Regions from separate parts of the Homo sapiens genome. Here region 2 is linked to region 1. Evidence: fine-mapped expression QTL. A gene starts in region 1. The other region holds a variant in brackets. All regions are shown on one strand. Distances are from middle to middle.

Region 1 (2,916 bases):
TATTTGTCATGTGGAATATGTCCAATGCATTTAGCTGGTAAATTTAGAATAAATCGCAAGAACAATCGCCTGGGGCCCTCAAAAAGGCCACATACATCTACAGAATATTATTTAGGAAAGTATAACTTAAGGGTGAAAACAGCTGGTGAAACTGCTCTGTAGCTGAAAGCTGAGAAGCTTCTCCATTTTAGTACTCTCATTTAGATTTTAAGCATCTTTTTGGGGACTGTTAAAAAGGTAGTCTGTGGAAAGCACACGGTGCAACTGTGACTTTGCACATGTCACATATGTTTCAAGTTTAAAATGGGGTTATTATTTTTTTCTTATCTTCAGGTGCTAATGCATCCAAATGGGTGATAGATACGGAGAGAATCTATTTTTTGAAAGTTGGTTGAATTTAGAAATTACTATGTGAATCAAGTATTAATGTATTCAATATCCATTTGCACTCCTGAGTTTATTTAGATACTTTACGTAAAAGTGAAGGGGCAGGAATATAGGCAGGGTATTTAATGTGAAGCTCTCTCCCGTTAATAAAGATCAATTACCCCAAGATTTGCAAAAAAAAAAAAAGAGAGAGAAAAAGAAAGAAATGTGCGAGAAGTTTCCTAAAATTTAAGGTAGGGGGAACGGAGTTTGCAAACTCCTTTCACCCCGATGGGCATTAGCAGACACCTCCGGTTTTAGAAAAGCGTTACAAACAGTTCTTCCACGATGCTGCCCACCAAAGCCGTAATGTGCCCAGACCCCAGAGCTCCTAGAGCATTTCACTCAGGGTAATGCTGGCTTTGGGGCGGTCAAGGCAGGGGCGTGTCAGCTCAGGATGAAGAGGCAGGAAGCACAGACGGGCCGCGACTGGCTTCCTGACTGCGCCGCGCCTTGGGAAAGTCCCCGCCCTCCAAAGCTCTCGATTGGGATCACCTTGGGACTCGGCTTCCTTGTGAACCGTTTCCAGCGATTCAGCCCCATCCTTTTCTTTGAGAAGGACCTTCCCTGAGGCGCCAGGAGCATTTTCCAAGTTCGAGCCCGAACCTCGGCCAAAGCTGCAGCAACCGCCCTTCTGCCCGGGCTGCCTCCGGGTCACGCTGGGAATTGTAGTTCCTCCGCCCGCAAGGAAAGCAGGCATAGGACACCGTCGAACCACCACTCCCACGAGGCTCTGCGCAGGCCGCTCGCGTTGGCTCAGTTACCATAGCAACGGCAGAGGTCCCTCGCTCTTGCCGTCATCAAGGCTCGCTTGAATGTCGGCTTTGCTTTTTTTCTGGCGCCCAGTGATGACGCAGTACTCCCTGATTGGCTCTGCACTGGAGGCAGTGATTTTGGGGCAGAGAATTTTGCAACACGTGGTAGTGAACTGTGAGGAGTTTGAGGGGTCTGAAGACTGAAAGAGTCGAATGGTTTGTTGGCAGGTAAGTGCCCCTTTGCCCTGCTGGTGTGGGAGCTGCTAGAGATGGATGAGTCACGTCGCGTCCAGACGCTTCCTGGTTGTGTTGCAGTAACGGTGATTGTACTCCCGCCATGTCTCCTCTGCTTCCCTTTTCAGGGTGTCCTGGTGGATTGGTTTCTGTAAGTTCAGATTCTCATAAATCGTGTGAGCGTCGCCGACACCTCTGAGATAAAAGGGCCCCTTTCGACTAGCCTCTGCTGAAAGGTAGAGTTTTCAGGAAGTTTTTATTCCGAACTGCCCATGGGAGGGTGGGACCGTCTTCAATCTCTGAGCCAGGTGCCTAGGGAGGTCTGGGGCCATGGAGATGGCCCATGGAGCAAAGATAAATCCAGGCTTATTGGCTTAGCCGAGGTGTTTCCAGAGACAGCCCATTTAGGGGTGATAAATGGGCTTATAAAGCAGAGTAAAGATTTAGAACAGGAGTTTTGAATTCAACTACTTTGTGGCTATATGACCCTAGGCAACTTGTTTAATAACTCAGAGACCCTGTTTTCTCATGCAAAATGGGGACGATAATACCTGAATCACTGGAGTGTTGTAATGATTAAAAATAAATGTATGTGAAGCATTCTGCCAGGAAATGTAAACTAAAGTTGATTTGAAATTGGTGAAAATGAAGTTAGGGAAGCTATGCCCTCGGACTGTTGCAGCGATCCTAGGACCAGCTCTGTAACTGGTCTGTCTGAAAGGCGGTTGAATAAATTGTGCTCATACAAACTATGCAGTACCACGAAGTAGTTTTTTTCAAAAGGGTAAGTTAGCTTTATGTCTCTTCTTCAGGAAAGACGTCTAATGTTTATTCTTGAGAGAAAAGCAAATTGCAGAGAAGTGCATATATTATAGTATAATATGTTTCCATTTTTGTAAAAGCAAACCCTGACCAAAACACTCCCTCCCATATGCAAGTATGTTTAAATATTTGTATGAGAATGGAGAAAGATTGCAGAGACTGGGAGGATGGATTAGAGGCGGGAGGGAGAAAGGGAAAAGAAGAAGAACACTATAGCAAAATGGAAACTAAGATTATAATGTGCTTGTGTACCAGATGGAACTTCTAATAAGCTCCCAGCCTATTAGAGTACAGCGCTGAAAACTAGACTTCAATAATTAAAGTCCTTGCTCTGCCACTTACCAGCTGGGGATTTTATCAGCCTCAGTTTATCATACATAAAATGCAGATAATAATGGTATCTATATTATGCATTTGATCTGAGGATTAATGGAGTGAATATATAAAGAACAGTGCTTAATACATAGTAAATACCCGATAAATGTTAGTTGCTATTATTGTCTTTCTATATGTGAAATTAATTTAACTTTTATTGTGATTACTGACATTTGGAATTCTACCATCTTATTTTGTGTTTTCTATTTCTTTTTTTTGGTCTCTTTTCCTTTCTTGCCTTTTATTAGGTTAATTCATTTTTCTTTATCTTCCCACTTCCCTCTCCAGTGAGTTTGGAAATTAT
Region 2 (2,916 bases), 55 kb after region 1:
CCTGCCCAGTTTTATGTTCAAAAATCCTGTCCTTGATTTTTTAGGCAGCATACCTATGATTAAGCATACACAGTGAATATCCTTTTACATATGAATCATGCTTTCCAATGTATATTTCTTTGCACATTAATTTTTTCCCCAATAGTTCTGTGAAGTAGACAGGACAGAGAGAATTGCCCTCATTTTACTCCTGAGGAAGCAGAGGCATAGAGACATTTACTCCTTAGAGTTTGTCAGCTGAAAAAGGTAGACTTTAATTGAAGGCGATAGAAGCAGGACAGTTAGGAAACGGAAAAGCCCGGCTGCCAGGGGTTACGGACACAGGCAATTCCCTATGAAAGTGCTTTCTTCACTTGCCTTCACTCACCAGATTTCCTTGAGGCAGCGGGTGGGTGAGTATGCCTGGTATGATAAAGGTTCACTCCAATACATGAACAGAAAGTATTTCAGTTCAACAAAAGCAGAGCCTGGGAGAGAAACCCAGGGGGTTTACACCAATTCTGGAAGGAGGCAGGAAACAAGCAGAGGGGAAAAGGACAGAAGGAAAGTGAAGGGGGAAGGAGAGTAAGTGACAAAGGAGGAAAAGGTGTGAAACAATTTGCTCCTAGTTTATGAAAATTCCTCTTTGAAAATGAGATAAAGAAGTAATTATTTGCATCACAAATTAACTCTTCACTTCAAAAGAGTAGTTACCACAGGTGTGATTCTGCAATGTGAGACTTTAAAAGAACATGACTTGGGAGAGGTGGGAGATTTAAACAATAAAATCCTGATTATAATATAATAGGAAATAATTCCAGTGATAAAGGGGGAGACAGCTAAAGAAGGAGGTGGTTATACAGGGAGCTCTCTGCAGAGCTCAGGCTTTGAAAAGGACATGAACAGAAAGCAAAGGGAGGGGATTATAGATAAGCTTGAACACAAAAGACTATCATGAACCTTCAAGAACAGAATAAAGGAGGCTAAAGCTGAGCTTTACAAAAAAGCGCTAAAGGCTGCATTACTTAGAGTAAAGAGAAGCACAAACATGGAGCAACCTGCTCTTTGAGGAAGTAAGGTTGTGTAATGTCAACAGAAGTTCAGCAGTGCTTACTTTTTTTTAGTGTTCATTTTGCTTCTGTCTTCTCCTAGGTGCAAAAAGTAGTTGTAACTGACATTTCTCTTAGAGAGAGACTGTATTTGCGCAGAAGGAGCACACTGATATTATCCCACTAGGGAAAGGGACAGAGATCCCCAGAGTCTCAGCCTCAAAGATAGGAGAAGACTTAGGAGCTCCCTGGCCACATTTGAGAGAAAGATGGTGAAAAGCAAGTATAGGAGCAACAAAACCAGGAAGACAGTGATCTACCACACCCCCCTTCCCTGCTCTGCTCAAATCTTGTGTAATTCTTCTAAAACTTGTTAATTGCTTTGTGTGAGTGAATTTCCCATGGAAA[C/T]AGAAGATGAAACTCAGCTTGGCTCCCTAGGGCACATGGTGAAAATGACAGCCAACTTTCAGATTAAGGAGCCAAAGGAAAGAGACGTAAGGATATACAACCTTCAATTTTTTCTTTGTTTGTTTGTTTTGAGACAGTCTTGCTCTGTCACCCAGACTGGAGTGCAGGGTGCAATCTTGGCTTACTGCAACCTCTGCCTCTCGGGTTCAAGTGATTCTCCTGCCTCAGCCTCCTGAGTAGCTGGGACTATACACACATACCACTGCGCCTGGCTAATTTTTGTATTTTTAGTAAAGATGGGGTTTCACCATGTTGGCCAGGCTGGTCTCGAACTCCTGACCTCAAGCAATCCACCCGTCTCAGCCTCCCAAAGTGTTGGGATTACAGGTGTGAGCCACCGCACCTGGCCTGGGGTCTGGTATTTTAGGACAAACGAATAACATGGCTACATCCAAAGAAAAGCGATAATCTGTTGGGAATTACAGCAAATGGGAGAGGTGCCTGAAGGCTGAAAACTTTTCACAAAGGGGAACAGAATAGATTCTATCAACTAGAGAGCAATAAACAAGCATTGACATCTATTCCACTGCAAATGATTAATTCAAGACTAAGCCAATCATGGTATTCCATTCACCTTGCTAGGATGGATTGCTGCTGTGATTTAAACCTGGTTAATAAGATAAAAGGGGGAGTTTTGGGAGTATTGGGCAAAGAAATTACATGAGGAGAAGAGTGGTTCTGCAGTTACTGAGCATTGTTGTGACAGATATGACTCCTAGAATGGCTCCATCATTACTTATGGAGGTGAAGGGTGGGGAGCCAGCTCGAGAGCAAAGCAAACCTCTGGAGTTAGCAGACGGGAGATGGAAAGAGCTTGAATCCATGATGACTCTGCTAAGCCACTGAATCTGCCAGTCTGAAGCTCATACTTCATATAGACTTCTTCATGAGTGAGTAAAATAAACCTCATTGTTGAAGAAAATCTGAGTCAGGGTTTTCTGATATTTGGGGCAAAGACATATTCTAACTGATACAACGATATATTTAGCTGAAAGAGTATGTGATATTCTGTGCAAGTCCTACAAATAGCGTATGACACTGACTCTGACCCTTAGGATTTAGGCCTCAGTGTTTTTTCAATAACATGACAACATTCCCTTTAATATATTCTTCCATTTGGAGATAATTCAAATCTCAAGGGAAGTCTAAGACAGTAGCTATTGTAATTAAAATTCAGTGACTAAGCAGGCTGGAATGCTAGGATAAAACCAACAAGTCGAATAGATGATGAATACAAGATCCAGCATTGGTTCCAAAAATCTACATCCAAAGTTCAAGACCAGGCACGGTGGCTCATGCCTGTAATCTCAGCACTTTAGGAGGCTGAGGCCGGGGGGATCATCTTGAGGCCAGGAGTTCGAGACCAGCCTGGCTAACATAGTGAAACCCTGTCTCTACTAAAGAATACAAAAATTAGCCA

Evidence for each region.
Region 2: its variant is fine-mapped to the expression of QTRT2 in whole blood (TOPMed, PIP 0.96).

Annotation. Positions count from the first base shown.
Region 1 is chr3:114,055,456-114,058,371 of GRCh38, forward strand. It overlaps QTRT2 (queuine tRNA-ribosyltransferase accessory subunit 2), which reads left to right and starts at 1,282. Exons shown (of 10, transcript NM_024638.4): 1 at 1,282-1,409; 2 at 1,544-1,651. It overlaps CCDC191 (coiled-coil domain containing 191), which reads right to left and starts at 1,071. Exons shown (of 17, transcript NM_020817.2): 1 at 922-1,071. The coding sequence starts at 1,011. RefSeq lists an enhancer at 813-1,222.
Region 2 is chr3:114,110,236-114,113,151 of GRCh38, forward strand. No RefSeq gene overlaps it. Among named protein-coding and RNA genes, the nearest start is that of QTRT2, 55 kb to the left of the region's middle. RefSeq lists an enhancer at 684-1,185. The variant C/T (reference allele first, on the strand shown) is at 1,437.